7 linked regions of the Homo sapiens genome follow. The protein of the gene in region 1 purifies or fractionates together with the protein of each later gene. This does not show direct contact. Each region holds a gene or a part of one and is shown in the gene's direction. Other genes may lie near its edges.

Region 1 (3,500 bases):
GCTTGCAAACCTGAGGAACAGCAGGTGCAGGCCAGCTGCACTTGGCCTTTGAAGACAGCCAGGAAGCCAGTGTGGCTGGAACAGAGTGAACGAGAGATAGAGGGGTAAGAGTTAGGCTTGGAGAGGCAGGCAGGGGCCCCACAGGCCGTGGGAAGGGGTTTGACTTGATTCTAAAAACCATATGAATCATGGGAGGGGTTTAAGCAGGAGAGTGACACGTTTGTTCATATTAAAAGATCCCAGCTGGGCATGGTGGCTCACACCTGTAATGCCAGCACTTTGGGAGGTTGGGGCGGGTGGATCATGAGGTAAAGAGATCAAGACCATCCTGGGCAACATGGTGAAACCCTGTCTCTATTAAAAATACAAAATTAGCTGGGTGTGGTGGCGCACGCTTGTAGTCCCAGCTACTCGGGAGACTGAGGCAGGAGAATCACTTGAACCCAGGAGGTGGAGGTTGCAGTGAGCAGAGATCGCGCCACTGCACTCCAGCCTGGTGACAGAGCGAGACTCCATCTCAAAAAACAAAAAGATCCCCTGGGCAGCTGTGGGGTGAGCAAGTGTCAAGGGCAGAGTCGGGAGAGAGAAGACCGTGCTGGCCCACGTGAGTGATGATGGGTGCTGGACCCGGTGGGGGCCACAGAGGGATGAAAGTGTCAGATGTGATGCGTATATTGGCTGTAGAGTGGACGGGACTCTCTCTTTCTAAACAGACACGCCGCTTTTTGGATGCCTCCTATGCCTGGCGGGAGTCTTGTCTGAGCTGGCACCACCACACGGCCCACGACATCTTCGCAGGGAAGCCTGTGGACCCTCTGCCAGGCTCCACAAGAGGTCAGGACAGTGCAGTGTGTTCACAAGGCCAGTTTCTGATCGTCCGCCCCGAGGCTGAGGACCAGTAGGCAGCTCCCAAGATGGTGAGTAGACAGCCTCGTGTGCCCTGGGTTTCTCTCCCAGTCTTTGTAGGACCCTGGAAGCAGCCCCTCCTCCCCTCCCAGAGCTCTAAGATGATGATTTCAATCTCCGGGTCATCATCTTTTGGTGCAGTGGGTCTGAAATGTGGCTTTGCGCTAACATCACCCATGGGCACTTTTTAAATGTTTTTTTGTTTCATTTTCTTTTGTTTTTGAGACAGTCTCACTTTGTTGCCTAGGCTGGAGTGCAGTGGCACGCTCTCGGCTCACTGCAACCTCCGCCTTCTGGGTTCAAGCAAGCACGTCCCACTAATTTTTGTATTTTTAGTAGAGACGGGGTTTTGCCATGTTGGTCAGGCTGGTCTGAAACTCCTGACCTCAAGTGATCCACTACACTCAACCTAAATTTCCCCTTCCCCCTTTCCCCTCCCCCTCCCCTACCCCTTCCTTTCTCTTTCTTTCTTTCATTTTTTTTTAACAAGGTGAAATTCATATAACATAAAATTAACCATTGCAAGGCCAGGCACAGTGGCTCACGCCTGTAATACCAGCAGTTTGGGAGGCCAAGGCAGGCAAATCATTTAAGATTAGGAGTTTGAGACCAGCCTGGCCAACATGGCGAAACCCTGTCTCTACTAAAAATACAAAAATTAGGCTGGGCGCGGTGGCTCACGCCTGTAATCCCAGCACTTTGCGAGGTTGAGCTGGGTGGATCACCTGAGGTCAGGAGTTTGAGACTACCCTGGCCAACGTGGTGAAACCCCGTCTCTACTAAAAATACAAAAATTAGCCAGGCGTGTTGGCGGGAGCCTGTAGTCCCAGCCACTCTGGAGGGTGAGGCAGGAGAATCGCTTGAACCCGGGAGGTGGAGGTTGCAGTGGGCTGAGAACATGCCACCACACTCCAGCCTGGGCAACGAAAGCGAAACTCCATCTCAAAAAAAAAAATACAAAAATTAGTTGGATGTGGTAGCACATTCCTGTAGTCCCTGCTACTCAGGAGGCTAAGGCACGAGGATTGCTTGAACTCAGGAGGCAGAGGTTGCAGTGAGCCAAGATTGCACCACTGCACCCAAGCCTGCGTGACAGAGCAAGACTCTGTCTCAAAAAAAAAAAAGAAGAAAACAAGAGCGACTCTTCAGCCAGGCTCAGTGTTCTTTCTTGAGACCTGTGTTCAACGGTACTACATGTGTATCTGCCCAGTGGCAATGTTAAATACTTCTTACCGTCAATCACAGTCTCCAAAAGAGTGTGAAAGCCACCATAGGAGCATCTGAACCTCATGGAATTTTCCAAAGCAATGACAATGGGTTTTTTGCCCAAGTAGCCCTTCCCCAATCAGACACTGAGCCCAGCACTGTCCTCTAAAATGTCCCCAAGTCCCCCTTATCCAGGTCCTGCCCCCTGAGGCTGCACAAGTAGGTTTCCTGGAGGGAGCCTGTGTATTAGTCCAGTCTCACGCTGCTCATAAAGACATACCCAAGGGCTGGGCGCGGTGGCTCACGCCTGTAATCCCAGCACTTTGGGAGGTCGAGGTAGGTGGGTCACAAGGTCAGGAGTTCAAGACCAGCCTGGCCAATATGGTGAAACTTTGTCTGTACTAAAAATACAAAAAAATTAGCTGGGCGTAGTGGCACATGCCTGTAATCCCAGCTACTCGGGAGGCTGAGGCAGGAGAATTGCTTGAATCCGGGAGGCGGAGGTTGCAGTGAGATGAGATCGCACCATTGCACTCCAGCCTGGGCAACAAGAGTGAAACTCTGTCTCAAAAAAAAAAAAAAAAAAAAAAAAGACATACTCAAGCCTGGGTAATTTATAAAGGAAAGAGGTTTAATTGACTCACAGTTCAGCATGGCTGGGGAGGCCTCAGGAAACTTAACAATCATGGCAGAAGGGGAAGCAAACACATCCTTCTTCACGTGGCAGCAGCAAGAATGAGCAAGAGGAAAAGCTCCTTGTAAAACCATGAGGTCTCTCGAGAACTCATTCGCTGTCATGAGAACAGCATGATTCGCCCCCATGATTCGATTCAGTTACCTCCCACCAGGTCCCTCCCATGACACGTGGGGATTATGGGAACTACAATTCAAGATGAGATTTCGCCTGTAATCCCAGCACTTTGGGAGGCTGAGGTGGGTGCATCACTTGATGTCAGGAGTTCAAGACCAGCCTGGCCAACATGGTGAAACCCCATCTCTACTAAAAATACAAAAAATTAGCTGGGCGTGGTGGTGCATGCCTGTAATCCTAGCTACTCAGGAGGCTGAGGCAGGAGAATCGCCTGAACTCGGGAAACGGAGGTTACAGTGAGTCAAGATCGCACCACTGCACTCCAGCATGGGTGACAGAGCAAGACTCCATCTCTAAAAATTAATAGTAAAATAAAAAATCAGAAAAAATTTTTTTGAATGAGATTTGGGTAGGGACACAGCCAAACCATATCAGCCTCTCTCTGAGTCATGTCTCTGTTCTGCTTTGCAGGGTGAAAGGAAAGGGGTCAACAAGTACTATCCTCCAGACTTCAACCCTGAGAAGGTAAGCAGGCTCTCCGCTCCAGGTCCACAGTAGCAAAAAGACCCACGTCATC
Region 2 (3,500 bases), on another chromosome or scaffold:
CCTCCCAAAGTGCTAGGATGACAGGCGTGAGCGATGCACGTGGCCTTAATATAAGACTTTATAAACAGCAATTCAGTGAGGAGTTCTGGGAAGCCAATCAATAAAGCCAGGCCATAAGGCTACTCTGGCTAGTCCTTTCCTCTAGAAAACCTCTTGATACAACAAGAAGCCTTTTTATCAGACCAGTATATGGGAAATGCCAGAAGGCTGATGAGCCTGGACCTGAGGCCATTCAGAAAGGCAGTGACCTGTGGCTCGCACCTGACCTTCCCAGGAGGGCCATCTCAAGTGGTTGGTGGTGTGAAGGCTGCTTCTCATAGCCCATGAGGCCAGTGACCCTGGAAGATTGTTTCATACAGCCAGCAAGAGAGTGTTTCCCCAGCCAGACCAAGACTCCTTCTGTAAGGCCATTTTGCATGGCTAACAGGAGCCAATGTGAGGCTGCTCCCAGCGGGGTAGATGGACACAACAAACAATTCTTTCCTGGCACAATGAAGAAACCACAGATCGATTTGTAAAACTAAGACAAAATCTGACTTCACCTGGTCCTCAGACAAGCCCCCATCTATAGGAAGGCCAGTTTTTAAAACAAGTTACAAGGGCCGGGCGTGGTGGCTCACACCTGTAATCCCGGCACTTTAGGAGGCTGAGGTGGGTGGATCACTTGTGGTCAGGAGTTGGAGACCAGCCTGGCCAACATGGCGAAACCCCGTCTCTACTAAAAATACAAAAATTAGTCGGGCGTGATGGCATGCGTGCCTGTGGTCCCAGCTACTCAGAGGCTGAGGCAGGAGAATCACTTGAACCTGGGAGGTGGAGTTTGCAGTGAGCCGAGATCGCATCACTGCACTCCAGACTGGGTGACAGAGCAAGACTCCATCTCACAAAACTGCTTTGGAAGACTGCTTCCTATACCAGGATGTGGCTGTTTGATATGGTAACTACATAAAAGGCCAAATCATGAGAGGTTTGGGGAAGCCTATGCAACAAGGCAGAAGACTGATGCGGCCAGAATGCCACTTCACCATGCTGCCAACATAAGGCCTTGTAGGAGGCTATAGTTTTATTTTTTGAAACAGGGTCTCACTCTGTCACCCAGATGGGAGTGCAGAGGCACAAACACAGTTCACTTGCAGCCTTAAACTCCTGAGCTCAAGCAATCTTCCTGCTTCAGCTCCCGGAGTAGCTGGGGCTACAGGTGTGTGCCACCATGACCAGCTAACTAATTTTTTAATTGTTTTTAGAGACAGGGTCTTTACATGTTGCCCAGGCTGGTCTCGAATTCTTGGGCTCAAGCAGTCCTCCTGTTTCAGACTCCCGAGTAGCTGGGATTATAGGTGCCCTGCTGGGGGATAGTGTATAATAATCTTGAGGCCTTTGGGGAGGCCATTTCAAGTGGCTTATACAGAGGCAATCTGAAAAGCCATTTTGAAAACAAACTTATACAGCCATCCTGAAGCCTCTGTCTCTGGAAAACCATCATATATTGTCAACGTAAGTATCTCTGAAGGCCTTTTGATAAGGCCGTTCATTGAAGAACTCTGCATTAAAGAATAATCATAAGGCTATTTCATGTGGCCAAGAGCAGATAGTTTTGTACAGCCAACTCACAGTATTAGGAGGCCATCTTTCCCAGAAGGCTGTGTCCATTGGCCTTCAACATGAGGTCTCCAAGGCCGATTTGCAAAGTAGCAGATAGGCCGCCTATGAAGACCAAACATGAGGCCACCCTGGGAGGCCAGGTGACAAAGCAGACACGGGGCCACTGGGGGAACCTGGCTACAAAGCCGCACACGTGAGGCCACCTTGAGAAGCTGGCTTGGTAAGGCTGATAGGCGCCCTGTGAGGGGCCGTTTTATAAGGTCACCCTGAAACACCAATTTACAAAGCCCGTAATCTGCATTGCAGAGAACAGGTTTATAGCCCATTTGAAACCCTCTGGGAGGCTGTTTTCTAAGGCCATCAAGAGACAGGTTTACAAAGCTGGTACATAGAGCCCCAGTGGAAGCCAGTTTTATAGTAGGGCAATAAATGGTCTCCTGGGAGGCCTTTCCACTGGCCTTTATGAGAAGCCAGGATATGAGGCCCCTGAGGTCTTTTGGATGCTCAAGATGAGACTTCTCCATGTTGCTCTATAAGATTCATGTAAGCCACACACGGGATGAGCCAGGAGGCCACCCAGGGAGGCCAGGGATGGGCCCATGTGGTGTCTTGTGCTGGCCTAGTGGATAAGTCCATGCTGGAAATTGGACTGTGAAACGCTCCAAGAAGGCTGTGAATGAGGCCAACACAAGCCTTCTAGGAGGCTAGAGATAGAACCCACCCTGGCAGGCTGGGGCTCTCTGAGCCCTACCATACCCTGAGCTTGCTAGAAAGAAAGTTCATTGTGAACCAAGAATGGAAATGAACTCATTATAAGCTCAGCCCTGTGGATACAAAGTCCAAAGAGCTCACCCTTGAAGGCAATGAGTGTTCTGGGCAGACACTGCCACTTACTGTGTAGTTTGGCACAAATTGCTTAACCTCGAAATCTCAGTTTATTCATCTGTAAAACTCCCATCATAGGATTGCAAGGGACGTGTTAATCTATGTCAAGCATGCAGCATTGACATGGCGCACAGGAGAGGGTGCTGAGATCAGCCAGAATTTAAGCCCTGCTTCTGCACAAATGATTGACCGTAGGCCTTGGGGCAAGTCACTTCATTTTTGTTTTTTTGTTTTAATTTGAGTCAGGATCTTGCTCTGTCACCCAGGCTGGTGGCATGATCTCGGCTTACTGCAACCTTTGCCCCCAGGCTTAAGTGATCCCACCACCTTTAATCTCCTGAGTAGCTGGGACCACAGGCATGTACCGCCGTGCCCAACTAATTTTTGTATTTTTTGTAGAGACGGCGTCTTGCCATGTTGGCCAGGCTGGTCTTGAATTCCTGAGCTCAAGTGATCCAATTGCCTCGGCCTCCCAAAGTGCTGGGATTACAGGCGTGAGCCACCATGCCGGCCTTCTCGAATACTTTTCAAAGCCTGGCACTCCTGAGTGACTGCCATGAGGCAGACTCTGCTTTTAGGCTCTGGGAAACGTAGGGGAATGAGCTACGTTCTTGCCCTGGTGGAGCTGGCAGTGCAGTGTTGGATAGACACACGTGTAAGCAGGTGTTTTCATACATCCTGACGAGTACTGTAAGAGAAGCTCAAGGGCTGCAGGAACACAGAACACTGTTGGAGAGTCTTGGCAGGCCTCACATAGGGATATTTAAGATGGGCTTTAAAGGTTGGGTAGGAGTTTGCCAGGCAGCGGAGGGGTATGGGAGGCACTGCAGATGAGGACAATACACGTTCCTTTCTGAACAGACGTTTATCCAGTGCTTGCTGAGTACCAGGTGTTGCGCCAGGCCCTGAAGATACAGTGGTGACCCCAGACAGATGAGGGCCCTCCCCTCCAGAGCTTCTGCCCAACAGAGAAGACTGCTGTTGAAAAATCCTCGCAGATGAGATGCAGGAAG
Region 3 (3,500 bases), on another chromosome or scaffold:
TCCCTTGCACAAGAGCAGAAGCTTTGTTTTGCTTTCATCTGTATGCTCCGTGTTGGGAACAGCACATGTGGTGTTGTGGGCCTTGCACAGATACACATGGAACAGATGAAAGAGTTGTCATCTTCAGCATGTTTGCTGGGACACACAGCTCTATATGGTAACATCGTGACTTGATGGGGGAGTCGGTTTAGGAAAGGGCACTCCGAGTCCTGTTGAATGCAAGTGTTCTGCACGCCATGGGACTTCTGCGTTGTCAGGCCCTCTTTTCATCAGTAGTAGAATGTCAGTGCATGTATAGACAAACGAGACACTCTTTCTTATCAGTTTGTAGACTCCACTGTGCTGGAGTAGCACAGATGTGTTGTGTGTTTGCACAAACATGCAAACATGATACTTTTTGCTTTACAATCCAGCTTTTTCGGCCATTAACACAGTCCTTGTTGTCCTTGAAGCTTGATTATCTGTTGAAATGTAGCTTGTGCATCACAGGGCAATTTGTAGATTTTTTTCTTCTCCTTTTTTTTTTTTTTCCTATAGAGATGAGGTTTCATTATGTTGCCCAGGCTGGTTTTAAACTTCTGAGCTCAAGTGATCCTCCCACCTTGGCCTCCCGAAGTGCTAGGATTACAAGTGTGAGCCATCATGCCTAGCCAGTTTGCAGATTTTCAATACCTGTACACCTACATGCCAGTAAATATAGGAATCCTTTTCAGAACCTAAGTGGTAGGAACCATCATCATGTTTACAGGTGAGGAAACTGAGGCTCAGAAAGGCAGTCACTTCTGCAGGTCTCAGAGATGGTCAGGGTTTCACTTCTTATCTCTCTGAGATGAATAGAGTTTCTGACCCCTGTCCTCATCCCGTGGGTCTTGAGCTTGTAGCCACTGTGCCTTGTGCATAGCCTCACGTGTAGCAGGTGGTCAGGACTGTCACTAGACTTGAAGGCAGAGCTCTCCAGGTGGCCCCACCGAAGTTTGCACCACCACACGCAGCACCAGGGCACCACCTCAGTGGGAGTACCACTTTCCATGGTGGCAGGGTTGGTCGGAGGGGGGGGTGTTTGGGGTTGTGGCTTAGCACCTGTGAGGCCCCATCCAGAGGACTAAGTCATATGAGATCCCTGGAATTGGGGCTCGCTCTCAGGTCAGGATGATTAGGCGATGACCACCCACCTGTAGTACAGGTACCAGGAAGAGAAGAGTGGGTAAGGTAAGGAAATCCTAGGGAGTGAGGGAGAGCCCCAGGGATTTGGAGGCCTGGCACCCACAGGCCTGGCACCACTTTGGTGGGGGAGGAGCCTGCCTGTGATCACGAGCTCTTGCTCTAACACCTGTATTGCTTTCTCCAGTCTGAATCAGACCACGTAATTCCCTTGGCATCCAGCACATGAGCAGAGCTGGCCCTGAATCTGTAGGGTACCACCTGAGGGCTCTCTGGGCAGTCAGGGTGGGTGGATTCTGCCCCCGTGGGGAGTCCTTGGCAGTGTGGGCTTTCATGGGCAGAAGCCAGGACCAGGGGAGAGGATTCCAGCCCTGCATGTTGGGGGCTATGATTCCTGGGCCTGGGTGTCCTCCTCTTTCCTGACTGCAAAGGGTGCTGTGTTCCTCCTCCCGCAACCCCTAAGCAGGAGAGGCTGGAGAGGAGGAGGAGAAGGAGCCGCTGCCCAGCCTAGATGTCTTCCTGAGCCGCTACACGAGTGAGGACAATGCCTCCTTCCAGGAGATCATGGAGGTGGCCAAGGAGAGAAGCCGGGCACGCCACGCTTGGCTCTACCAGGCTGAGGAAGAGTTTGAGAAGGTGTCTCTGGGGTCTGGGGTGTCACATAGGCGTAGGCACCCTCTGTGGTGGTTGGGGAGCCCCAGGGCCATGGGTACAATGCCCAGGGGCATCTCTGACCATCACTTTTCCCCATGTGATTGCAGAGGCAGAAAGATAATCTCGAACTCCCGTCAGCAGAGCACCAGGCCATCGAGAGCAGCCAGGCCAGTGTGGAGACCTGGAAGTACAAGGCCAAGAATTCCCTCATGTACTATCCAGAGGGTAAGTGGCGGGCCTCGCAGCCAAATGGGGAGGTGTTGGGTAGAGCTGTGTGTGTCTGGCTGTGTTTGGAGCAGCCTTCCAGGTGTGTATGGCCGTGCCCCCTTGCAGTTTGGGCTTCTGATGGGTACTGGTCTGTCTAAGGGTGGACAGGTCTGTGTGAGGTCAGCAGTGAGTGAGACCCTCTCCAGCGGCACTGGGGCCTGCGTTCTGCTCAATGCTTTTGTTCATCTGGGAGTGACTTGGCCGAGAAGCGAGCTCCTCATGCTCCTTAGGCTGCTGCCCTTCTGACACCTGCTGCTACCTTTGCTTCGTCTGCCAGGTGTCCCTGACGAGGAGCAGCTGTTTAAGAAGCCCCGGCAGGTGGTACATAAGAACACGCGCTTCCTTAGGGACCCCTTCAGCCAAGCCCTGAGCAGGTGCCAGCTCCAGCAGGCAGCCGCCCTCAATGCCCAGGTGAGCAGGCGGGTCAGCAGGGCCGCATGGGCCAGGTTGGACAGGGCTGCCTGGGGGCAGGCATGATCTCTCCCATCTCTTTGAGCTTGGCAGAGCTCAGTGAGTGGAACCATCTGGGGCCCTGTGCGGCAGGATCCTGAGTCTTTCCTTGGCCCCAGTGGGCTTCCATTGAACACTGCCTTGGTCACACACGTTCTGTAGGTCCAGATCTGTGCCAGCTCCCTTGATGGCAGGGGCAGGAGAGAAAAGGGACTGCTGGGAGTGAGCCCAGGCTGGCAGCTGCACGCCCACACACCGGGCAGGGAAGCCAGAGAGCCGCAGAGGGAGCCCAGCCCCAGGGGGTGGCTGGGGTGGGACAGGCCCTGGGTTGGCAGAGAGCAGAGGCTTTCTGAGTCTGGGAGCAAGACGAGTAGATACTCTCTGATGGTGACTGTGGCAGTCACAGGGTTGAAGTGGGGAAGGCAGGAAGAGACTAGAGCATAAGCATTGCCTGTCATCAGCATTGCCTGTCATCAGCATTGCCCCCTGCAGGGGCCTGGCGTCAGCATCCTCTGGAGTTGCTGGGATAGGCGCAGCTCGAGTGGAGGCCCTGGCACCTCCCTGGATGGGAGGAGGGGGCTTTCCTTGCTTGGGTACCCACTTTGACAGGCCCTCAAGGTCTTTTGGGGGGTTGGGGCAGGGGCCCTCCCTCTCTTTCTCCAAGAAGGCTGCCAACCCCAGAGCCCCAGCCTTGCCCTGAGGAGAGGAAGTGTTTCCAGCATGTTCCCACGTGTTTGCCCACCGGCCAGCTGTCGAGCGTGGGCTGCGGTCCCCCTGATGCCAGCCTCTCTGCTTGTTCCAGCACAAACAGGGCAAGGTGGGCCCCGATGGCAAGGAGCTGATCCCCCAGGAGTCCCCTCGAGTGGGTGGATTTGGATTTGTTGCCACTCCTTCCCCTGCCCCTGGTGAGAAAAGTGCCCACTGGCAAGTGGGTCTACTGCTGGGACTCCCTGGGGGAGGTGGGCTTC
Region 4 (3,461 bases), on another chromosome or scaffold:
TTTCTTTGCTGCTTGGTTTTTCTATCACTAAAAAGCAAATTTAGGTGGAAGATGGATGGGTAAGTCCTTTGTCCTTGTCAAAAGAATTTAGAAAGGGTAAAGGTGGTGGGATTTGAATTCTTTTAAACGGTTTATTCATTGGAAAGGCAAGTGAGTGGCAGTTGACTGTAGAATCTTGGGAATTTTTGAAGGAATTTAAGAGCTGTACTTATTTTAAATAATGAGGAAACAATCAGAGAGACTTAACCAGGGTGGCAACTATGGAAGAGTGGGGGTAGAATCCAAGTCTACAGTTCTACGGCACTGCTTTGTTTATTTTTTCAATCAAGCACACATGAGGGATTGCTTAATAAATTCAAGAGTTTTCTATATAGTTTGGGATTACTACAGACACAGGTACTCTAGCCATGTGACTATTTCAGATTAGTGTTCCCATTGCTCTCCATCCTATTTTTCATATCTAAATGTGTCATGATTTTAGAATCTCTTTGTAAAGAAAACCAAAAAGAGCCATGCCCAAAAGAATGAGCATGAAATGAAGCAATTCAAGTATTTAGAATTTCTTCTTCTTTTTTTTTTTTTTTTTTCAAAATTCTGAGTTAAGAAAGTTCATTGCCAACAGTTGAGGATAAATAGCTCTATTGATTTAGGCAAATGAATGAGAAGATTTAAACATCATCAAGACTCCCAAAGTTGGTGTAATAAAAGTTGAGATGTTTTGCTAGATGCTGAGAGAAAAGGCATAAATAGGCCATTTGTGCTCCTGTAAACAAATGAAATTTTGTAATGATCAAGAGACAGCAAGATATTATAAAACACACTTTGGACTCATCGAGACCTGGCTCAGAGTTGTACCTAATTTGCTTATCAGCATTTGGTTAGACCTTAGACAAATTTTATAACCTCTCTAAGCCCATTTTCTTTATCTGTAAATAAAGGAAAAAGATCTGTTTGGATTTGGGACAGGAGAGTTGTCTGTTTTATAGGGTAATGTTTATGAAAATAATTTATCACCTAGGTACTTAGTAAATACCAGTTTCTGTCTCTGTTTTTCTTCAAAGCTTTGTTGACAATGTAGGATATTGCCAACTAATCCTTTGACTTGAGTGCTTAGCCATGCCCCAATCCAGGCAGCATGAAGAATGATCAAGAAGGGGACACCTAGTGGCAGTTGACCTTTGAGGATCTATCTAGGATCAGGTTACTGATTTGGGACCTCTGAATCAGTACATCATAACATCGAGAGTGATCTCTGCCAAAATTAAAATTCTGTCAGAACAGTATAAGCAGAAGGAAGACATTAGGTCTTTCTGAAATATGGAGCTGATAACTTCTATCAGTTCTGAATTCTGTACTGTCCCACCCCCAAATCATCTATATTGTTGCATGTGCTTAGCTTTGTGCCTTGAATTGCTATTTCCTTTTTATCTTGCACTCAGATGGTATTTTTAGAGATGTTTCTTCAATCAAAACAAGATAAAGTTAAAAAAAAAAAAAAAACAGTGACCCTTTTGCATAAGCCAGAAGAGCAGTGCCTTGCTTCCTGTGAAAAATGCTTGGCAGTTAGCCTGTGTAATTATTTAGCAATCATGTTAATAGATGTTTAAGAATAATGGAACTGGAGCTGTACTGAGCCAAGGATGGAAATGAAGACATGTGAGACTATTTTTTCTTCATCCACCGATACTCTTCAGTTACAAGGATTTAATTTAAAAGGGTTTTAATTAAATGGAATCCAGAAGCTTTGGACGCTCCAGTTTTTCTTCTTAGAGACAAACCCTAGCTCAGTTTCCTGGAGCTTGACTCAGAATGCAGCATGGTACTCCGGACTGACAGTGTGCCAGCTTTATTCACTTATCTCTCTACCTTTTGGCTTGCGTTTATTTCAGGGCTGCCTGACATTTTGACCTTATGTACAAAGATGGCCGATACGATTATTTTTCATCATATATTACAGAAAATACTACTCTTGAAAAATACTCTGAGAAATATGTTCTATGGTCAGATAAGTTTGGGAAACAGTGAATTATTGTTCCTCCTTTGCAGAATCACAATGCACTGTTAGCTAATTAAAGACTCTCAGATGTCCCACTGGAAAGAATCATGTTTAGCTTTGTTTAACCTAGCATTTCCCAAACTTATTAGAGCATAAAACTTTGTTTTTGTTTTTTTTTAATAAGATAGGTAGCTATTTCCTTAGAACACAGTTTGGGAAACTTTTTGTTCATTTGTTTTAATAAGATACCTTAGGTAGCTATTTCCTTAGAACACGAGCCGGGTGCAGTGGCTCACGCCTGTAATCCCAGCACTTTGGGAGGCCCAGGCGGGCGGATCACCTGAGGTCAGGAGATCGAGATCATCCGGCCCAACATGGTGAAACCCCGTCTCTACTAAAAAGACAAAAATTAGCCAGCCATGGTGGCAGGCACCTGTAGTCCTAGCTACTGTGGAGGCTGAGGCAGGAGAATCACTTGAACCCGGGATGGGGAGGTTGCAGTGAGCTGAGATGGCGCCACTGTACTCCAGCCTGGGCGACGAGCAAAAACTCCTTCAAAAAAAAAAAAAAAACATAACTTAGGTAGCTATTTCCTTGGGAACCAATATCTTTACATTGGCTAGAACTGTGAATCGCCCTTTAAAGATAAAGCCCCAAAATACATTTTTTTTCCCTACAGGTAACCAGAGGGTGAAGTAACAGCCGAAGAGGAAACCAGAAGTGAAGTGATTTGTACAAAATGTCGTAGTGTAATTTATTGAGTGTCATGTGGTATTAATCGCAACATCCTGAAAATGCAAATGAATAAAAGTTTGGTCAATGTACCATGACATTCCTTCATGTGAGCCTCCTAAGAAAAGGTCACTGAGCATTCTCTGTTTACATTTTAATTTTAGACTCCAGAATTTCACACTAAGTTTTTCTTCTCATTTCTTATGCAGTAAAAGAAGAGTTTGTATTTCCAATGTGTCTGGCTTTCTGTTCTTTAGTTTTTGTTTCCTTAAAAAGTTTAAACTCCAAAAAGAGAAAAGGATTACTTAGCATAACCAATAGAGGTGGTCTGGAAATAATAAAAGAAAATGAAGGCAAATATAAAACATGAAGACAGTTTCCTCGCATAAGAATATTTAACACACAAGGACCCCAGCAGTTACTTTGCATTAAGCATACTGAATTCTTTCTTGATCTCCAGAATAACTGTCCCCACAATCCTCTTCCCCTCTACCTTTGATTTAACATTGTGCACTCTCTCTATTATACTTATCTTTGTGTTGCAACCTAAGTTCAAGAACCTCAAAGGTAGCTGCTTCTCTTTGAAAGATGCCTGGTTTAATATAAAAAGCTCTTTTAAGAGCTGAATTTATTGACATTTTTCGAAAAACAGTTCTGGATGGGAAGTGATCCTTTTCTACTTTAGTTCACTGGTTCATTTGGGCCATTTTTGATTGGTTGGTTGGTTGGTTGC
Region 5 (3,500 bases), on another chromosome or scaffold:
AGTGCCCATCAAGAGTCCTGTAACTCAAGTCATTTCATGTAGCCAGTCCTATTGGATTTTCCAACATGGATGCCCTTTCTTTAAGAACAAAGATTTCTTAAAGGGAGGAGCTGAACTCAGGAGGGATCACAGTAAGAAAATGGAAATGTGACCAGGCGCGGTGGCTCACGCCTGTAATCCCAGCACTTTGGGAGGCCGAGGTGGGCGGATTACCTGAGGTCAGGAGTTCGAGACCAGCCTGGCCAACGTGGCAAAACCTCATCTCTACTAAAAATACAAAAAGTCGGGCATGATGTTGCACGCCTGTAATCCCAGCTACTCAGGAGGCTGAGGCAGGAGAATCGCTTGAACCCAGGAGGTGGATGTTGCAGTGAACCGAGGTTGCGCCATTGCACTCCAGCCTGGGCAACAGAGTAAGACTCTGTCTCAAAAAAAAAATCAAAATAAAAGTAAAAGTAAGAAGATGGAAATTTGCTTAGCTGTGAAAGGAAAGGCGATCTGTCTGATGTCCTGTGTTTGGTGCCTAGGTGGGCTTGGTGCTTGCATTTCCTGCGTTGCAGTGTCAGGATTTTTCAGGGATCAGCCTTGGCACTGGAGACCTTCACATTTTCCATCTGGTTACTATGGCACACATCATACAGATCTTACTTACCTCATGTACAGGTAACTCTTGCCTTTTTGTCAGTTTCTTGAAGGAAATACTTGAGTTTTCTGAGTTTTAAAAAAAGTATTAGAGGAAAAGGTATTTGGATGAGAATAACACATGAATAAGGCTGTTTTTTTCTGTGTATCTTCATATGAAAAGTTTTGAAACATTTCTTTCTCCTCTTAAAATTTCCTAGTAATGTGAATGTTTCTAGTTTTAATTTCATACATTCAGTAATATTTGTGTAGAATAGTAATTAAATCTTTTAGAATCTTATGTTTTAGAATGCCAATTTTGTTTTAACTTACATGTTTGTTAATGCCCACATGAATTCATCATTAAATTACGTTTTGCATTCAAAATTCTTGTTTTTCATACACTTTAAGACTATATTTATTTGATTTTACTTAAAACATGCCAGCTGGCTGTTTGGTTTGATTGAGATCAATACTGTGCTCCCACTTGAGGGATTACAATTTTGCATGTTTTCTAGGAATACTTCATGTTATATGTGAGTTTATGAATATATTTGCATGCTTAATGTCTTCAGTCCTTTTGATAACACTTAATTGGAAAATACAGAGTACTAGTATTTCCTTATCTTTCAGAAGAGAATGGCATGGATCAAGAAAATCCCCCTTGTGAAGAAGAATCAGCAGTTCTTGCTTTGTATAAAACACTTCACCAGTATACGGGAAGGTGAGTTAGTTATCTTTACATAACGCATTTCCCTAAATATTGCTAGATGATGATAGCATGAGAAAGGAATTCGTTTGTTAATTAGGGGAATTTGTTGTCTGTTGACATGTTTTTAAAATAAGACGTGGAGTGATCTGCAGAGCCTTTCTGAACTATTCATATACTAACATAATTGGAAATCTGGGAGAAAGGTGATAATATGCAGAGCTTCCCACATTTATTTGGCTGTGGAACCCTTCATTTGCTCAGGGATCTGGCAGAGACTAGAGGATAGATCAAATGTACTTTGGAAAGTTGATACTCTAAAACTTATGTTGTCTCATTCAGAATGGGAATTTAAAACTGCAAGTTAAATTGGCATAATTTATTTTTAAGGTAATATTCAGTAGTAGCAGGAATAAAATGAAATTATTAGAATTCCATGTATGGTTAGAGTCATGATTTGCTACAAATAGCAATTCAGTAGTTTGCTTAGCTTTCAACAGTATATATGTCAAGAATCTGTAGTCAGGAACCTATAAAAATGTCTGTTTTTTGACTATCCCATTTCTGAGAACCTACATTAACAAAATAATTCAACATATAGAAAAAAAACATATAGGCATATAAAGATGGACACTCCAGCCAGGCACGGTGTCTCACCCCTATAATCCCAGCACTTTGGGAGAATGAGGCTGGCAGATTGCTTGAGCCCAGGCATTTGAGACCAGCCTGGCCAACATGGTGAAACCCTGTCTCTACCAAAAAATACAAAAATTAGCCAGGCATGGTAGCATGTGCCTGTGGTTCTATCTTCTCAGGAGGTTGAGGTAGTCAGATCACCCAGGCAGGTGAAGGCTGCAGTGAGCCATCACACCACTGCACTCCAGACTGGACAAAAGAGTGAGACCCTGTCTCAAAAAGAAAAAGATGTACACTCTGATATTATTTATATTAGCAAATAATTGAAAGCAATCTAAGTGTTTGCAGGGGAATAGTTTGATATAGTGATGAATGTGTTCCAAAATATTATAAATCTATTTAAAATATGGCTCCTAGGAGCTGGGTGCAGTGGCATGTGCCTGTAGTCCCAGCTGCTCAGGAGGCTGAGGTGGGAGGATTGCTGGAGCCCAGTAGTTTGAGTCCAGCCTGGACAACTTTTCATTTTCCACATTTTCTCTTTATGTCACTATGTTACTTTTATAAATTTTAATAACATCACACCTGTAATCCCAGCACTTTGGGAGGCCAAGGCGGGCAGATCACAAGATCAGGAGATCGAGACCATCCTGGCTAACACAGCGAAACCCCGTCTCTACTAAAAATACAAAAAATTAGCCGGGCGTGGTGGCAGGCACCTGTAGTCCCAGCTACTCAGGAGGCTGAGGCAGGAGAATGGCGTGAACCCAGGAGGCAGAGCTTGCAGTGAGCCGAGATTGTGCCACTGCACTCCAGCCTGGGCGACAGAGCGAGACTCCGTCTCAAAAAATTTAATAACAGCATTGGAGGCTGTGTCACCACTTACACCTGGCATCCTATAATAACACACACCCACTTGCCTGTTAACTCACAACTTTTAAGCATACATGCCATCAGTTCCAAATGACAGTCAAGTCTGTTTTCACACTATAAGTACAGTGACCTTTTCTTAGTAGATTTCCCAATAATCTTTTTTTTCTTTTTTAGTGCCTTGAAAGAAATACCATCCGGCTGGCATCTGTGGAGGAGTGTCAGAGCTGGAATCATGCCTTTCCTGAAGTGTTCTGCTTTATTTTTTCATTACTTAAATGGAGTTCCTTCCCCACCCGACATTCAAGGTAATTTATACTTTCTTTCAAAACGTAGGGAGAGTTAGTAATCCTTTACTCCAGCAAATATAAAGATCACTTGCAAAAATGAAAATTGACTAAAAGTTCAAAGAATAGCTTATTGACTATGGTGATGTACACATTTATAGCATAAAATGTATGTTTATGCATATGTCTCCATTTATTTGGATCTCAGTAAATGACTGTTAAACTTCTGTGTAAATGTTTTTACACCTGCAAAGCCCTTCTCCCGTAAAGATCATAGTTTTGCTTTCAGATGTTAAAATGTTCAGTTATGTATTATTCATAAACAAGGTTCCTCAGATTTGAAAAGGTGAAAACTGACAATTTCAAGTGATTTTTAACTT
Region 6 (3,500 bases), on another chromosome or scaffold:
CTGGGTTTCAGGGCAGGGTGCTTCTCATTGCTGTCAGCCAGCACATGTAATTTCTGAAGGAGTCTTGGTGGTTTGCACTTGGAGAAGTGGGTTAAGGAAGTATTAAGTTCATTTCCCAAATAACCTGTTTTCATGTACAGTTCAAGTCCAACAGGAAGAAAGAGAATTCAGTGAACCACTGACTCCTCTAGAGGAAAAATGGAAGCTCTGGCCTTGGGCAGCTTCTCCACATCCAAGACGATGGTCAGCACAGGGCTGGAAGTTGCTTAGGCAGAACATAGCCAGGGATCCCTTAGTTTTTTTTGTTGTTGTTGCTAAAATTCCAGTGTGACTCATTTTCATCCTGGTTATATGTCAGGCTATCTCTGTGCCCCCTGCATAGTTACCAGAACAGTAGTAATCAGGAAAGTTCTTGAGGATTCCTTCTCTGGGGATTCAGGTGGCTTAATCATGTGCAGGTTCCTTGGCATCTTGCTGCTGAGAAAATCTGTCTTTGAGCAGTTAACATCGATGGGAACATAGCCAATCCCCAGCAGAAGAGGTTGTTGAGGAAAAGAACGTTACATGGATAGGAGTAGTTCCATAATTCAACTTTATACTCTTTCTTAAAACATGTAACTTAATTTCCTTTAGCAATAAAACAATAGTTATTTTAAACCATTCCAAAGATTCTACCAACCTGACACATTTGCATATACTTATTGTTTTTCTTGTGTCTCGAAGTTATAATTAGCCTGTTTCTTACTCAATGCCTTGTGTGTTTCTTGATTTCAAAATCCTTACCTACCTCCCAGTAACTAAGGGAAACAATCTTGCTGTTTAGGATGGGTGCCTATATTACAGGAGACTTAAATCAATAAACAACAGTAAAGGTAACCTTACTGGTTTTTTTTATGCTTTTAGTCAGTGGTCATCAAACTGTGGCCCATGGACCAGAAAATCTGGCCTGCTGCCTGTTTTTGTAAGTAGTTTATTGGAACACAGCCACACCCATTCCTTAATGTCCTGTGTTCATACTACACCAGCAGAGCGGACTAGTTGCCACAGAGATCACATGGCCCGCAAACCAAAAATACGTACTGTCTTTCCATTTGGCTCTTCACAGAGGTTGCCAGCTTTGTTGCATCATGTTTACATAGATTCACGGTTGGTTATCTTTAAAGACTAAGCCATCTGTACTCTCGGAAGTCAGGGCTGAGTTACTCAGGCCGGTGACCTGGCTACTTGCTCTGCCCGAGAAGGTCAGGCTTCATAGTGGCCTTTAAGTGTAAAGGGTGTGGATTCTTTGTATTGTTGCCATGCCCATGCCCATTAAACAGTCAACACAGAGTCCATTAGGAGATGCACTGAGTCTCCTGGACAGAGAAAGACCATGTTGTACAGTATTGTTCAAGTGTGTATGTGTATGTGCATGTCATTTTTTTTTTTTTTTTTTTAAGACAGAGTCTCACCCTGTCACCCAGGCTGGAGTGCAATGGCGTGATTTCAGCTAGCTGAAACCTCCGCCTCCCGGGTTCAAGCAATTCTCCTGCCTCAGCCTCCCGAGTAGCTGGGATTACAGCTGCCTACCACCATGCCCGGCTAATTTTTTGTATCTTTAGTAGAGACGGTTTCACCATGTTGGCCAGGCTGGTCTCAAACTCCTGACCTCGTGATCCACCTGCCTCGGCCTCCCAAAGTGCTGGGATTACAGGCGTGAGCCACTGCGCCTGGCCCACATTTGAGCTTTTAACCAGTGGGCCTCTTCAGGCGAAACCTTGTGTCAATGCCCAATGATGAAATAGAAAGGCTTAGTGGCTGTGGTTGAGGGATGGGCATGGGAGGGTGACAGTGGGGGTCTTGGAGCCCTTATCCGCTTCTTTCCCCTATGCTAGTGGCAGCCCGTGCAGTTCATCTGCAGACCCAGACTCCCAGGATGAGATCACGCCTGTGATGGAAACACCACTCTGTGGCTCAGGGATCTGACAGATCTGAGTTTGAATTCAGCTGCTGTCACTTATTAGCTGTATGTCCTTGGTCAAGTTATTAATCCAAGTCTCAGTTTCCTCTTTATTAAAACAGAGATCATGATATTTACCTTGCAGGCTATGAGGATTGAAAAATATTATTTTGCTGCCTCCTTTACAATAAATCTTTAGGCGGGGTGCGGTGGCTCACGCCTGTAATCCCAGCACTTTGGGAGGCCGAGGCAGGTGGATCACCTGAGGTCAGGAGTTCGAGACCAGCCTGACCAACATGTAGAAACCCCATCTCTACTGAAAATACAAAATTAGCTGGGCGTGGTGGCTCATGCCTGTAATCCCAGCTACTCAGGAGGCTGAGGCAGGAGAATCACTTGAACCCAGGAGATGGAGGTTGCAGTGACCGAGATCACGCCATTGCATTCCAGCCTGGGCAACAAGAACGAAACTCCGTCTCAAAAAAAAAAAAAAATCTTTAGAGGCAATATCTGTATGTCTGTCTGAGTTTTTCTGTTGCTTCTTGTCAAATTACCACAAACTCAATGGTTTAAAACAACATAAATTCATTATTTTATGCTTCTGAAGGTCAGGAGACTAAAAGGGATCTCTCTAGGGTTGCTGTACTGCATTCCTTCAGGAGGCTGTAGGGGAGAATGTTTACTTACGTTTTCCAGCCAGGAGGGTGGGGCAAATGTGTATGAAATGAATGAAATATAGTCATGTGCCAGTTGACATTTTAGTCAACAACAGACTGTATATGTGACAGTTGTCCCATAAGGTTATAATGAAGCTGAAAAATTCCTATCACCTAGTGTTATTGTAGCCATTGTAAAATGTTGTAGTGCTACGCATTACTCACGTGTTTGTGGTGATGCTGGTCTAAACAACCCTACTTCTTTGCTAGTCATATAAAAGTGTACAGTAGGGCCCTAGGCTCTCCCATTCACTTACCATCACTGACGGGCTCACCCAGAGTAACTTCCAGTCCTATGTAGATGTACCATTTATTATTGTTTATACTGTGTTTTTTCTTGTCCACGTTTAGATATATTTAAGTACACAAACACCATTGTGTTACAGTTTTCTACAGTATTCAGTACAGTCACATGCTGTATAGGTTTGGAGCCTAGGAGCAGTAGGCTGTACCATGTAATGTAGGTAGTACACTATACTACCTAGATTTGTAAGTACACTGATGTTTGCGCAGTGACATACCACTTTTCTCAGAACATAACCCCATTGTTAAGTGGCATGTGACTGTATACCTGAGAGTCTCACTCAGGCTGGCACAGAGACACTCAGTAAATGATAGTTATAATTATCAGTAAAGCATTTACTTGAAGTACTGTCAGTTTGTTGTCATTCAGGGAAAATTTGCAACTAAGATAGCTCTTATGAATATATATCATGATATATTCCTCTTGCTTTGAGGAGAATCTTAATTTTTTTTTTTAAGCTGGCATTTCTTGAGCTCTTTCTCCAGGGCTCATGGTCTTAACCATTGCACTAGACTACCTCTTGTAGTTGCAGAGAGAAGAT
Region 7 (3,500 bases), on another chromosome or scaffold:
AAGCACATACAGGAAAAGCCACCGTGAGCAAGTCAGCAGAACCACAGCAGAACTGAACCTCCGAGAAGGCAGCTGTTGAGATCCTAAGTTAAAGAAGATAAACTAAGAATGCTTGAGATATTCACAGACTAGAGGAAGGAAACAGCCTGAACCAGGAGCCACATGACCGCTAAACGTGACCTGGAGACTGGAAAGGAATCAGAGGGAACATCTAGAAATGACAAGTATGATACATGACCGCCAAACATGACGTGGAGACTGGAAAGGAGTCAGAGAACATCTAGAAATGACAAGTATGATACATGACCGCCAAACATGACGTGGAGACTGGAAAGGAGTCAGAGAACATCTAGAAATGACAAGTATGATACATGACCGCCAAACATGACGTGGAGACTGGAAAGGAGTCAGAGAACATCTAGAAATGACAAGTATGATACATGACCGCCAAACATGACGTGGAGACTGGAAAGGAGTCAGAGAACATCTAGAAATGACAAGTATGATACATGACCGCCAAACATGACGTGGAGACTGGAAAGGAGTCAGAGAACATCTAGAAATGACAAGTATGACAGATGAAACTGTGTGGGTTTAGCAGCAGGTCCATTTTGGCTAAACAGATCTTGTATTAGTGGATGGAAAGGAAAACCAGAAGAAATGCGGGCTAAAGAGCCAAACAGAAAACAAGAGACACTAGGAACCGTGGAGGCCAGGGTGAGGCACAGCACACGTTTAAACAAAGTTTGGGGGTGTGAGGCTTAAAGTGACAGTGGCCAGCAATTTTCTCTAAATTATGAAAGCCTGAATACACAGGATCGGGAGCACAGCATCCATCCATCTCATAATGAAATTGCAGGACACCAAACGCAAAGAGAATATCTTAAATGCACCCAAGGAAAAAACGCAAATTACCTCTGAGAGCGGACACCGAGACTGAGACTCGGCTTTGCCACGGCCACAGTGGGAGCCAGAAGCCGTGTGACAGATCCAGCAAGTGTGACTCCTTACTCTCCACCGCCAGCTTAGAATCAAGCCTTGAAGTAGATGCTCGTTCAAGAATCTGCTTGTGATAAAGGCATTTTCAAATGGGAAACAATGTATCACAACAGGAAACTCAGTAGAGCGAGCTGTAAAGGGAGCCTGGCCCTGCAGAAAGGGGCTGAGACAGATAGGCAGAGGAACGCAGCCTGCAGGGAAGAGCAGTGCAAACTCTGAAGCTCTGCCACCTGGACGGCCTTAGTTATCTGTGTTTGGGGGAGAAAAATTAGAGCCCTCACCAGCCCCACACAATAAATAAATAAGCTCTGAGTGTTTCTAAGCCTAAGACATCTTTGTGAGCTCTGGAAACAAGGGCTTCTTTAAGAAGGCCCCAAAAGCCCAAGGAAAACATTAAGAAATTCAACTACATTAAATTTTAAACTTCTTTATATTGAAATTAAAAGTGAAAACAAAATCCACAAAAGGATAACGAACAGAGATTAAGTATCCAGAATAGGTGCAGAATTAGTTGTCAACAAGAAGGTGGCAAACAACTCAGAAAAGAGCAAAAACCATGAATGGGGTTTCGCAGAAATGGAAAAATAAATAGAAATGCTCATCCTTCTTAGTGATCAGCAAGTAAAGCCAGAGGGACGTCCTTTCATGCCCATCAGAATGATGATGGTTTGGGGGAGAGGGTGGAGACCAGTGGTCTTACCCAGTACCCTTCTTGTGACCTCCTTGGTGACATTCAGTCGGGTTGGGAGCTTCTTGCATGTTCAGACAAGAAAACGTGCTCAGATACCTGAAATAGCAAACAACTGGAGACAGCCCACAGGTGCATCATTAGAGGAATGGACAGGTAAGTTGTTCTCTATCATAACATATACTGAAAAGCAGTGAGAATCAATTATTAGAACTACATGGATCACCTAGGTGGATCTCACAAAGATAATCCACAAAGAAAATTCAGGAGGAATGCGTACGGTGCAATGACATACAACATGTTTAAGACATACAAGACGGTTTTGTTTTAAGAATCTGTAACTATTGGCCAGGCGCAGTGGCTCACACCTGTAATCCCAGCACTTTGGGAGGCTGAGGAGGGCGGATCACGAGGTCAGGAGTTCGAGAGCAGCCTGACCAACATAGTGAAACCCCATCTCTACTAGAAATACAAAAATTAGCCGGACATGGTGGTGCATGCCTTTAATCCCACCACTCAGGAGGCTGAGGCAGGAGAATCGCTTGAACCTTGGAGGTGGAGGTTGCAGTAAGCTGAGATTGTGCCACTGCACTCCAGCCTGGGCGATAGAGTGAGACTCTGTCTCAAAAAAAAACAAAAAAAATCTGTATACAAAATATAAATGTGTGTGGGGATGACACATATGTACTCTAGCAAGTGAGGACCCCAACTGGGGATGGGATAGGAGACCATCTTTCTTTCCAGAGTGGCAACACAGTGCAGGGGGGTCCCTGTCTTAGCAGTGACTTGCTGGTGTGCAGAGGGGTCACTCTCTTAGCAGTGACTTGCGGGTGTGCAGGGGGTTCACCACCTTACCAGTGACTTGCAGGGGGTCCCTGTCTTAACAGTGACTTGCGGGTGTGCAGGGGGGTTCGCTGTCTTAGCAGTGACTTGCGGGTGTGCGGGGGGGTTCACTGTCTTAGCAGTGACTTGCGGGTGTGCAGGGGGTTTCACTGTCTTAGCAGTGACTTGCGGGTGTGCGGGGGGGTTCACTGTCTTAGCAGTGACTTGGGGGGTCCCTGTCTTAGCAGTGACTTGCGGGTGTGCGGGGGTTCACTGTCTTAGTGACTTGCGGGTGTGCGGGGGGTTCACTGTCTTAGTGATTTGCATGTGTGGGGGGGGTTCACTGTCTTAGTGACTTGCGGGTGTGCGGGGGTTCACTGTCTTAGTGACTTGCGGGTGTGCGGGGGTTCACTGTCTTAGCAGTGACTTGTGGGTGTGCGGGGGTTCACTGTCTTAGTGACTTGGTGTGCGGGGGGGTTCACTGTCTTAGTGACTTGTGGGTGTGCGGGTGGTTCACTGTCTTAGTGACTTGCGGGTGTGCGGGGGGTTCACTAGTGACTTGCGGGTGTGCGGGGGGTTCACTGTCTTAGTGACTTGCGGGTGTGCGGGGGGTTCACTGTCTTAGTGACTTGCGGGTGTGCGGGGGGGTTCACTTAGTGACTTTCGGGTGTGTGGGGGTTCACTGTCTTAGTGACTTGCGGGTGTGCGGGGTTCACTGTCTTAGTGACTTGCGGGTGTGCGGGGGGTTCACTGTCTTAGTGACTTGCGGGTGTGCAGGGGGTTCACTTAGCAGTGACTTGCGGGTGTGTGTGTGGGGTTCACTGTCTTAGCAGTGACTTGCGGGGGGGGTCCCTGTCTTATCAGTGACTTGCGGGTGTGTGTGGGGGGTTCACTGTCTTAGCAGTGACTTGCGGGGGGGGTCCCTGTCTTATCAGTGACTTGCGAGTGTGCGGGGGTTCACTGTCTTAGTGACTTGCGGGTGTGCAGGGGG

The links.
Region 2: the proteins of YJU2B (region 1) and KDM8 purify together in Homo sapiens (affinity purification with mass spectrometry; 3 studies listed by BioGRID and IntAct, with this or other methods). This does not show direct contact.
Region 3: the proteins of YJU2B (region 1) and ESS2 purify together in Homo sapiens (co-immunoprecipitation; 2 studies listed by BioGRID and IntAct, with this or other methods). This does not show direct contact.
Region 4: the proteins of YJU2B (region 1) and AQR purify together in Homo sapiens (co-immunoprecipitation; 2 studies listed by BioGRID and IntAct, with this or other methods). This does not show direct contact.
Region 5: the proteins of YJU2B (region 1) and UBR2 purify together in Homo sapiens (affinity purification with mass spectrometry; 2 studies listed by BioGRID and IntAct, with this or other methods). This does not show direct contact.
Region 6: the proteins of YJU2B (region 1) and RIOX2 purify together in Homo sapiens (affinity purification with mass spectrometry; 2 studies listed by BioGRID and IntAct, with this or other methods). This does not show direct contact.
Region 7: the proteins of YJU2B (region 1) and PPP2R2D purify together in Homo sapiens (affinity purification with mass spectrometry; 3 studies listed by BioGRID and IntAct, with this or other methods). This does not show direct contact.

What each region holds. Positions count from the first base shown.
Region 1 is NC_000019.10:13,750,895-13,754,394, forward strand, and holds part of YJU2B (probable splicing factor YJU2B), read left to right. Parts: intron 1-713; 5' UTR 714-914; coding exon 915-917; intron 918-3,394; coding exon 3,395-3,448; intron 3,449-3,500. UniProt on the Homo sapiens protein: May be involved in mRNA splicing.
Region 2 is NC_000016.10:27,206,526-27,210,025, forward strand, and holds part of KDM8 (bifunctional peptidase and arginyl-hydroxylase JMJD5), read left to right. Parts: intron 1-3,500. UniProt on the Homo sapiens protein: Bifunctional enzyme that acts both as an endopeptidase and 2-oxoglutarate-dependent monooxygenase.
Region 3 is NC_000022.11:19,138,152-19,141,651, reverse strand, and holds part of ESS2 (splicing factor ESS-2 homolog), read left to right. Parts: intron 1-1,624; coding exon of another isoform or gene 1,625-1,627; coding exon 1,628-1,797; intron 1,798-1,922; coding exon 1,923-2,040; intron 2,041-2,359; coding exon 2,360-2,493; intron 2,494-3,172; coding exon of another isoform or gene 3,173-3,232; exon of another isoform or gene 3,233-3,334; coding exon 3,335-3,437; intron 3,438-3,500. UniProt on the Homo sapiens protein: May be involved in pre-mRNA splicing.
Region 4 is NC_000015.10:34,851,282-34,854,742, reverse strand, and holds the end of AQR (RNA helicase aquarius), read left to right. Parts: 3' UTR 1-2,961; downstream 2,962-3,461.
Region 5 is NC_000006.12:42,675,529-42,679,028, forward strand, and holds part of UBR2 (E3 ubiquitin-protein ligase UBR2), read left to right. Parts: intron 1-527; coding exon 528-663; intron 664-1,254; coding exon 1,255-1,345; intron 1,346-3,010; coding exon 3,011-3,141; intron 3,142-3,500. UniProt on the Homo sapiens protein: E3 ubiquitin-protein ligase which is a component of the N-end rule pathway.
Region 6 is NC_000003.12:97,955,432-97,958,931, reverse strand, and holds part of RIOX2 (ribosomal oxygenase 2), read left to right. Parts: intron 1-3,500. UniProt on the Homo sapiens protein: Oxygenase that can act as both a histone lysine demethylase and a ribosomal histidine hydroxylase. Is involved in the demethylation of trimethylated 'Lys-9' on histone H3 (H3K9me3), leading to an increase in ribosomal RNA expression.
Region 7 is NC_000010.11:131,949,508-131,953,007, forward strand, and holds part of PPP2R2D (serine/threonine-protein phosphatase 2A 55 kDa regulatory subunit B delta isoform), read left to right. Parts: exon of another isoform or gene 1-897; intron 898-3,500. UniProt on the Homo sapiens protein: Substrate-recognition subunit of protein phosphatase 2A (PP2A) that plays a key role in cell cycle by controlling mitosis entry and exit. Involved in chromosome clustering during late mitosis by mediating dephosphorylation of MKI67.